2 separate regions of the Homo sapiens genome follow, and region 2 is linked to region 1. A link means that fine-mapping ties the variant in region 1 to the expression of a gene that starts in the linked region. Tissue or cell type: whole blood. Region 1 holds a variant in brackets; the other region holds the start of a gene. All regions are shown on one strand. Distances are between the middles of the regions.

The links. PIP is the estimated chance that this variant, and not a neighbour inherited with it, causes the effect.
Region 2: it holds the start of ZNF554, and the variant in region 1 is the best candidate, but not a certain one, in a credible set for the expression of ZNF554 in whole blood (INTERVAL, PIP 0.63).

Annotation. Positions count from the first base shown.
Region 1 is chr19:2,848,940-2,854,086 of GRCh38, forward strand. It overlaps ZNF555 (zinc finger protein 555), which reads left to right. Exons shown (of 4, transcript NM_152791.5): 2 at 1,648-1,774; 3 at 2,529-2,712; 4 at 3,441-5,147. The coding sequence ends at 5,013. Among named protein-coding and RNA genes, the nearest start is that of ZNF555, 10 kb to the left of the region's middle. The variant C/G (reference allele first, on the strand shown) is at 2,976.
Region 2 is chr19:2,817,146-2,822,292 of GRCh38, forward strand. It overlaps ZNF554 (zinc finger protein 554), which reads left to right and starts at 2,723. Exons shown (of 5, transcript NM_001102651.2): 1 at 2,723-2,979. The coding sequence starts at 2,927. RefSeq lists a silencer at 2,762-3,201 and an enhancer at 3,134-3,827.

The DNA of each region.
Region 1 (5,147 bases):
CCAGAAAGCCGTTCTAAGGATAGAGTCTAAGGCCCGCAATGTTAACTTCTTTCGGCATATGGGAACTTTATTATTAAAAAACACTGCAAATACACTGCACTATGAGCAATTAAGGCTAACCCAGGGAGCTCATATTGTCCCCTGTGCCAGTAGGAGGGTCCTGTAGATACTCTGCAGCTCTGTGAATAGGACTGTTCTAGCATCAGAATTGCTGCGTGACAGTATTTTGTCTGTCTCCTGCTCATAGACGGAAAGGAGTTGATCTTTCTCAGCAGGTTTGAGGGAACCGTGCATCTCGGGGGTTCCATGCACCTGTGCCCAATATGCAATATGGAAATAATGAGAAATTGAGAGTGCAGCCTCTAGAGTGGTATGTGGGGAATCACTTCCTCCTGGAATTTGAGACACAGAATTTTCTAGGAAGGCACTATTTTGTCTATGTCTTTTATAACCATTGAAAATTCGTAGTCAAATGGTTTGGACTTCAGTTAACTCCTTTGCAAAGTGGGACTCTTAACTTTATCCTTAAGGTTAGCAATAATACTTTTTTTTTTTTTTTTTCTGAGACTGAGTCCTGCCCTATCACCCAGGCTGGAGTGCAGTGGCATGATCTTGATGCATTGCAACCTCTGCCTCCCGGGTTCAAGCAATTTTCGTGCCTCAGCCTCCCAAGTAGCTGGGACTACAGGCGTGCACCACCATGCCCGGCTAATTTTTTTTTTTTTTTCAGTAGAGATGAGGTTTCACCATGTTGGCCAGGCTGGTTTTGAACTCCTGACCTCAAATGATCTGCCTGCCGCGGCCTCCCAAAGTGCTGGGGTTACAGGCATGAGCCACCACACTTGGCCCAAGAATACTTTCTTTCGGCTCTGGTGAAAAGAGCTGTTTTGGCATTGTGTGCACCTCGCTCTGTGTATACTTAGTGAGTGTGCCTGTGTGTACGAGAGAGAGCCAGCGTGTGAGAGAGAGAGAACCCAGAATTAATTGTTGGGCTTCCGTCACTGAGGCTCGAAGTATAGGGAATGTGTGGAGGTCTACGTTCTCGTGTCTTTTTCCTCTTTCCTAAGGTCTAATTTCTCAATAACTTCTAGTTTCCAAGTTAAAATCAATACTTCTCAAAAGAATGTTTTCATTCAGCCAGTTGGACCAGGAGTTCTTTAAGACGCTATGGCTACCTGGCCCTTATGAAGGAAATAGAAGGGAATGTTCCCAATCCTTCAGTGTTTTTATCCCATAAAACTTCAGTTTTGACCCTGTGCTTTGTGTAGTGCCGAATGATGGTGTGTGCAGCAGGGGAGGAGCTAAAACGGTTTGTGTGACAAGGCACTGATGGTCTTAAAATACAAGTATTTGTTTCACTTATATAGCATTTGTTTGATATCTCCAATGTGGTCTGAATCCTTTTGATAGAGAATAATGTCTTCAGTTGGTCCCAGTAAAAGTATAGAGAGAAATTCAGTGTGTTAATGGTCCTGTGAAATCTATGAGGAAGTGAGTGTAGACAGGAAGGAAGAGGTGTGACAACTGAGTCACAGGGTAGATGTCAGGGAATCACAGAATCTTGTTTGAACTACATACGAATTGAGTACAATGCTCCTGGGCTCTCGGTCTCAACCATCCTCCCATAAATATGTTGAATTGTTTTAGGACTCAGTGGTCTTTGAGGATGTGGCTGTGGACTTCACCCTGGAGGAGTGGGCTTTGCTGGATTCTGCTCAGAGGGACCTCTACAGAGATGTGATGCTGGAGACCTTTCAGAACCTGGCCTCAGTAGGTAAGGATGACATCATTCCTTCCTTCACGTAGTTATTGAGAGAACAAGTATTTCTTACACATCAGACCTGTTCCAAGGCTTGGAATGTGGAAAGGGAATAAATTGGTAAATAAGACAGACATAGTCACAGCTGTCATAGAGCTAGAATGTAATGTTTTTCCATGAGAATGAGAATCTGTATTTCAGCTTTTTATTTTTGTAGAGAAAGCTCCCTTCATGTCGTCATTGTGGATATAGCTTTGATAGGCCTAGTGAAATTTGTTTGTGCAAGCCAGTGAAAATTTGATTTTTTTTTTTTTTTTTGAGATGGAGTCTCACTCTGTCGCCCAGGCTGGAGTGCAGTGGTGTGATCTCGACTCACTGCAACCTCTGCCTCCCGAGTTCAAGCAATTATCTGCCTCAGGCGCCCAAGTAGCTGGGATTACAGGCGAGCGCCACCATCCCTGGCCAATTTTTGTATTTTTAGTAGAGACGGGGTTTCACCATGTCAGCCAGGCTGCTCTTGAACTCCTGACGTTGTGATCCACCCGCCTCAGCCTCCCAAAGTGCTGGGATTACAGGCATGAGCCACCGCGCCTGGCCGTGAATTTTTTTTTTTAATAATTTTTCTATGCTTACTAATACTGTGTTGATTGAGTTGCTTACCTTTTTGACCATTTTGTGTTTAATGAAGTCCTGAGATAGCTAAACTCCTCAGTGTCGTTTTCCGCTAACAAGTGCCTTCTTATATGATTTGTTTACTTTTTGGTTTCAGATGATGAAACTCAATTTAAGGCCAGTGGGTCAGTTTCTCAGCAGGATATTTATGGAGAGAAAATACCCAAGGAATCTAAAATAGCCACGTTCACCAGAAATGTTTCCTGGGCCTCTGTTTTAGGAAAAATTTGGGACAGTCTTAGCATCGAAGATCAAACCACAAACCAGGGGAGAAATCTCAGGTGAGTTGCACTCACAAGAGAACATAGTATTTCAGGAGAGAATCTTAGTCTGTCATTAAACTTTAAAAAAGCAAGCAAACAGAAAACTCATCCAAGCCTAGCTCCAATTTGTTTAATCCACAGAATTTTTACAAAAAAATATTTCTTTAAATGTGACATAGACAGTGAGTGACATTAGAAACATAATTCAGATGGAAACCATTATCAAGAAACCCTAGGCCAGGTACGGTGGCTCACACCTGTAATCCTGGCACTTTGGAAGG[C/G]TGAAGTGGGCAGATCACTTGAGGACAGGAGTTCGAGACCAGCCTGGCCAACATGGTGAAACCCTGTCTCTACTAAAAATACAAACATTAGCAGGGCATGGTGCCGCAGGCCTGTAATCCCAGCTACTCGGGAGGCTGAGGCAGAATTGCATGAACCCAGGAGGCAGAGGTTGCAGTGAGCTAAGACTGCACCACTGCACTCCAGCCTGGGTAACAGAGTAAGACTCTGTCTCAAAAAAAAAAAAAGAAAGAAAGAGAAAGAAACCCTATACATAAGAAACACTGTTTTAATAATGGCAGTGGTCAAACCATCTTCCAGGGCATTCAGTTTATTTCATTTTCAGACAGTTCCCATGGGGTGAAAAACCTATGCTTTCACTGAAAATGGTTAAGATGCAGTCCTAATCCTAATAAATACTAACAAATCATTATTAATCAAACCAATAACATGCTTCTCATTTTTAGTAGAAATCATGGGTTGGAGAGACTCTGTGAAAGTAATGATCAATGTGGAGAAGCCCTCAGCCAGATTCCACATCTTAATCTGTACAAGAAAATTCCACCTGGAGTAAAACAGTATGAATACAACACGTACGGAAAAGTCTTCATGCATCGCCGCACATCCCTCAAGAGTCCCATCACAGTTCACACTGGACACAAACCATATCAGTGCCAGGAATGTGGGCAGGCCTACAGTTGTCGTTCACACCTAAGAATGCATGTGAGAACCCACAATGGAGAGAGACCCTATGTGTGTAAATTATGTGGGAAAACCTTTCCTCGTACTTCCTCCCTCAATCGGCATGTAAGGATTCACACTGCTGAGAAAACCTACGAATGTAAGCAATGTGGGAAAGCCTTTATTGACTTCTCAAGTCTTACTAGTCATCTCAGAAGTCACACCGGAGAGAAGCCATATAAGTGTAAGGAATGTGGGAAAGCTTTCAGTTATTCCTCAACGTTTCGAAGACACACAATAACACACACTGGCGAGAAGCCATATAAATGTAAGGAATGTGCGGAAGCCTTTAGTTATTCCTCAACTTTTCGAAGACATATGATTTCACACACTGGAGAGAAGCCACATAAATGTAAAGAATGTGGGGAGGCCTTCAGTTATTCTTCGGCTTTTCGAAGACACATGATAACACACACTGGAGAGAAACCCTACGAATGCAAACAATGTGGGAAAACCTTCATTTATCTCCAGTCCTTTCGAAGACATGAAAGGATTCACACTGGAGAGAAACCCTACGAATGCAAACAGTGTGGGAAGACCTTCATTTATCCCCAGTCCTTTCGAAGACATGAAAGGACTCATGGTGGAGAGAAACCCTATGAATGCAACCAGTGCGGGAAAGCATTCAGTCACCCCTCCTCCTTTCGAGGACACATGAGGGTGCACACTGGAGAGAAACCCTATGAGTGCAAGCAATGTGGGAAAACTTTCAATTGGCCCATATCTTTACGAAAACATATGAGAACACATACTAGAGAGAAACCCTATGAATGTAAGCAGTGTGGGAAAGCCTTCAGCTTGTCTGCTTGCTTTCGAGAACATGTGAGAATGCACCCTGAAGACAAATCCTATGAATGCAAGCTATGTGGGAAAGCTTTCTATTGCCACATATCCTTACAAAAACATATGAGAAGACATACCGCAGAGAAACTCTATAAATGCAAGCAGTGTGGGAAAGCTTTCAGTTGGCCTGAACTTTTGCAACAACATGTGAGAACGCACACTGTAGAGAAGCCCTATGAATGTAAGGAATGTGGGAAGGTCTTCAAATGGCCATCATCTTTACCAATACATATGAGACTGCACACTGGAGAGAAACCTTATCAATGTAAGCATTGTGGGAAAGCATTCAATTGTTCCTCATCCTTAAGGCGACATGTGAGAATACACACTACAGAAAAACAGTATAAGTGTAATGTAGGACATCCTCCTGCAAATGAATTCATGTGCAGTGCTTCAGAAAAGTCACACCAGGAGAGAGATCTGATCAAAGTTGTAAATATGGTGTTGCCTTTATGAGTTCCTTATCCTGAAAGTGGACACTCAAGGAGTGTGTCTGTAGTTCATTTGCAAATAAACATTTAGTTGAAAAATAATTCTCCAAATACTCTCAGCTATCCTACATGAATTTGAACAGGTAGTTTCTTACGATT
Region 2 (5,147 bases), 32 kb before region 1:
CTACTAAAAAATACAAACATTTAGTCAGACGTGGTGGCCCTTGCCTTAGTCGGTGTGAGAACTGACTAATGCAATTAGTGAGACTATATTATGAACCTTTATAGTGTTAGAAATAAATTTTCGGTGCCACAAAAGAAACAGCACTCGAACATTAATTTTCTCAGCACGGCAATTTTACTTCTATAGAAGGGTGCGTCTGGCAGGTGGAGCCCAGCGCCGCGCTGCGGGGCCTGCTGGGACTTGTAGTTCACAGGCTCAGGGTGCGCAGGCGCAATGCCGAGTTTGCCTCTGCGCGAGTCGGGGTTGGCGGCGCCTGAACGAGCACACCTGAACGAGGGAGGAGAAGGGGTTCTTACCCCTGACGCAGGTACCCCTACTGCTGTGTTGTTCCCCTATTGGCTAGGGTTGGCCCGCACAGTCTAAGCTGATTCTGATTGGCTGTTTTAAAGAGCAGGGGTATGAGCCAGAGTGGCGGGGTGAGTAGTTTGGCAGGAAGGACGGCTACAGAAAAGGTGACTCAGAATGACTAAGAACAGAGCAGGTGACCAAGGATAACTAAGGTCAGAGCAGGTGACAAGGGTGACTAAGAACAGAGCAGGTGACCAAGGATAACTAAGGTCAGAGCAGGTGACAAGGGTGACTAAGAACAGAGCAGGTGACCAAGGATAACTAAGGTCAGAGCAGGTGACCAAGGATAACTAAGGTCAGAGCAGGTGACCAAGGATGACTAAGGTCAGAGCAGGTGACAAGGGTGACTAAGAACAGAGCAGGTGACCAAGGATAACTAAGGTCAGAGCAGGTGACCAAGGATAACTAAGGTCAGAGCAGGTGACCAAGGATGACTAAGGTCAGAGCAGGTGACAAGGGTGACTAAGGTCAGAGCAGGTGACCAAGGATGACTAAGGTCAGAGCAGGTGACAAGGGTGACTAAGAACAGAGCAGGTGACCAAGGATAACTAAGGTCAGAGCAGGTGACAAGGGTGACTAAGGTCAGAGCAGGTGACCAAGGATAACTAAGGTCAGAGCAGGTGACCAAGGATGACTAAGGTCAGAGCAGGTGACAAGGGTGACTAAGAACAGAGCAGGTGACCAAGGATAACTAAGGTCAGAGCAGGTGACAAGGGTGACTAAGAACAGAGCAGGTGACCAAGGATGACTAAGGTCAGAGCAGGTGACCAAGGATAACTAAGGTCAGAGCAGGTGACAAGGGTGACTAAGAACAGAGCAGGTGACCAAGGATAACTAAGGTCAGAGCAGGTGACAAGGGTGACTAAGAACAGAGCAGGTGACCAAGGATAACTAAGGTCAGAGCAGGTGACAAGGATGACTAAGGTCAGAGCAGGTGACCAAGGATGACTAAGGTCAGAGCAGGTGACCAAGGATGACTAAGGTCAGAGCAGGTGACAAGGATGACTAAGGTCAGAGCAGGTGACCAAGGATGACTAAGGTCAGAGCAGGTGACCAAGGGTGACTAAGGTCAGAGCAGGTGATAGGGGCTAGGAGGGGTTGTTTACTGAAACTAGGGGCAAGGAAACGAAAAGAACGAGGAAGTTAAAGTTTAAAATGAAGAACAAAGAATAGGTGGCCGGGCGCGGTGGCTCACGCCTGTAATCCCAGCACTTTGGGAGGCTGAGGCAGGCGGATCACGAGGTCAGGAGATCGAGACCATCCTGGCTAACACGGTGAAACTCCGTCTCTACTAAAAATACAAAAAAATTAGCCGGGCGTGGTGGCGGGCGCCTGTGGTCCCAGCTGCTTGGGAGGCTGAGGCAGGAGAATGGCGTGAACCTGGGAGGCGGAGCTTGCAGTGAGCCGAGATCGCGCCGCTGCACTCCAGCCTGGGCGACAGAGCGAGACTCCATCTCAAAAAAAAAAAAAAAAAGAACAGGGGAGCTGAATATACGGAAACATTGGTTCTTTGGAGAGGAGCTCATAACTGATTGTACTTAACAATTTACAGGCTAAAACCTTTGAAGAGGAATTTGTTGTATCCTACAACAGTATATTAATTATAGTAGTTTTACTATTTTAATTTCTCATAAATAACAATCAGTAGAATATTAAATAAATATTTAAACAATAATTTAATTTGGCTGGGCGTGGTGGCTCACGCCTGTAATCCCAGCACTTTGGGAGGCCAAGGCGGGCAGATCACTGGAAGTCAGGAGTTCGAGACCAGCCTGGCCAACATGGTGAAACCGCGTCGCTACCAAAAATATAAAAAATTAGCCGAGTGTGGTTGTGCACGCCCGTAATCCCAGCTACTTGGGAGACTGAGGCAGGATAATCGCTTGAACCCGAGGGGGCGGAGGTTTCAGTGACCTGAGATCATGCCATTGCACTCCAGCCTGGGCGACAAGAGCGAAACTCAGTCTCAAAAACAAACAACAATTACTTAAGCAATCATTTTAATAAGTATGTAATACATTATACGTTTATATAACTTGCTTAATAAATAATAGTAGTTATTAATATCCAATGGCAAGCCGCCGGGAAACGACGGAGCTGGGATTTGAGGATTGGCTCCGCGAACCCCACAACACCCGGGGACTCCAGCGAACCACACGGGGTGGATCCAACAGCCGCAGGGGCATCGTGGTCCTGCGGAGACGCCGCCCGCCCGGAGGCGGCGCTGTGACCCAGGTTGGAGAGTCAGGAGCCCAGCGCCGCGCTGCGGGGCCTGCTGGGACTTGTAGTTCGCAGGTTCGGGGTGCGCAGGCGCAGTGCCGAGTTTACCTCTGCGCGCGTCGGGGTTGGTGGCGGCGGCTGCGGCGAGTTCCTGAGGGGCGCCTGCGGGGGGCGTCCGCTCCGAGCGCCGAGGAGCCGAGCGGAGGAGGCGTCCCAGGGACACGCAGGGGAGGCCGGCCGGCCTGCACGGGGCGCTCCCGCCTCGGGGGCCCTGTCTGGCGCCTCAGCGCGCGCCCCGATGGTCACCTGCGCCCACCTGGGCCGGCGCGCGCGGCTCCCGGCAGCTCAGCCGTAAGTGCCGCCGCCTCCCGCGCCGCGACCTCCGTGCCGGGCCTGCCGGGGCTCTGGTGGGGCTGGGTCTGGCGGGGCCGGGTGGCCGGGGCATGACCCTGTCGCGATAGGGTCCCCACGGGAGGGTCGGGAGCCGGCAGCTCGCCCAGGGCCCCAACGCCCAGGATGGCACGGTCTGCCCTTGCCCTGTGAAAACGCCCCTGGGTGAGAGACGCATAAGCTTTCCGAGGCCCAGCCTGCAAGGAGAGGGAGAAGACGCATTGACTCTACCCTAAAGGCAGAGAGGGGCTGCCACGCTCGCACTGCAGTGAGGCCACATCAGAGGGTCTGAGCGAGGGGCGGTCCTGCCCTCCAGGGGACACCGGGCGATGTCTGGGGACGTCTGTGGTTGTCATAACTGGGGGCAGTTCCTGGCATGGAGTAGGTGGAGGCCAGGGATGCAACTCAGCACCCTGCCCAGCCCAGAGAATGACCCAGGCTCCAGTGTCCACAGCGCCCTGAGGGAGAGACCTCACTTATACGTTAGCACCGCTGTCCTGGTGATAAGACAGCAAGGGTCCTTTTTTTTTTTTTTTTGAGACGGAGTCTGGAGTGCAATGGCATGATCTCGGCTCACTGCAACCTCCGCCTCCCGGGTTCAAGCCATTGTCCTGCCTCAGCCTCCCAAGTAGCTGGGATTACAGGCGTATGCCACCACGCCCGGCTAATTTTTGCATTTTTAGTAGAGACGGGGTTTCACCATGTTGGCCAGGCTGGTCTCGAACTCCCACCTCAGGTGATCCACCCGCCTCAGCCTCCCAAAGTGCTGGGATTACAGGCGTGAGCCACCGCGCAGCTGCAAGGGTCTATTCTGTTTATACCCACCACCCATGTTGAGGAATGAGGGAGGCAGCTGACCTTTCTGCTGCTCTAGCAACCCCAACCTCCCTGAACTCTCCCCTACCCAAACAGGTTGGTTTCTTTTTCTTCTTCTTTTTTTTTTCTTGAGACAGTCTCGCCCTATTGCCCAGGCTGGAGTGCAGTTGCACGATCTCGGCTCACTGCATCCACCTCGTGGGTTCAAGTGATTCTCCTGCCTCAGCCTCCCAAGTAGCTGGGATTACAGGTGCACGCCACCCCGCCTGGCTAATTTTTATATTTTTAGTAGATACAGAGTTTCTCCATGTTGGCCAGCCAGGCTGGTATCGAACTCCTGACCTCAGGTGATCCACCTACCTCGGCCTCCCAAAGTGACCACTGCGCCCGGCGCCTTTGGTTCTTACATGAGCCTCCTGGAGCTGCTGTGACAATGCACCACAAACCAGGGGGCAGGGGGAGGCTTGAAATTTATTCTCTCACAAGTCTGGAGGCCAGAAGCCCAACATGAAGATGTGGTGGGGCCGTGGTGCTTCTGAAGGCTCTGGCGGGAGGATCTTCTCTGTCTCTTCCAGCTTCTGGGGGTGGCCTGCCATAGTTGGTGTCCCTTGGCTTGGGGCCACATCACTCCAAGCTCTGCCTGCATCATCATGTGGCCTTCTTCCCTGTGTCTCTTTCTCCTTTTTTGTTTTTATTTTTATTTTTTGAGATGGGGTCTCGGTCTGTCACCTGGCTGGAGTGCAGTGGCACGATCTCGGCTCACTGCAATCTCTACCCCACAGGATCAAGCAATTCTGCCTCAGCCTCTCGAGTAGCTGGGATTACAGGTGCACGCCACCACACCCAGCTAATTTTTGTATTTTTAGTAGAGACGGGGGTTTTGCCATGTTGGCCAGGCTGGTCTCGAACTCCTGACCTCGTGGTCTGCCCGCCTTGGCCTTTCAAAATGCTGGGATTACAGACGTGAGTCACCTAGTCCAGCTGTCTCTTTCTCTTATAAGGACAATACTCATGACCCCAGTAGCTGGAAGAGGCGGAAGGATTTTTCCTGAGAGCTTTTGTTTCTTCTTTTCCTTATCTTTTCTTTTTGAGATAGAGTCTTGCTCCATTGCCCAGGCTGGAGTGCAGTGGCACAGTCTTGGCTCACTGTAACCCCTGTCTCCCAGGTTCAAATAATTATCGTGCCTCAGCCTCCTGAGTAGCTGGGTTTACAGGGATGTGCCACCACACCTGGCTATTTTTTTTGTATTTTTAGTAGACGAGGTTTCACCATGTTGGCCAGGCTGGTCTTGAACCCCTGGGCTCAAGTGATC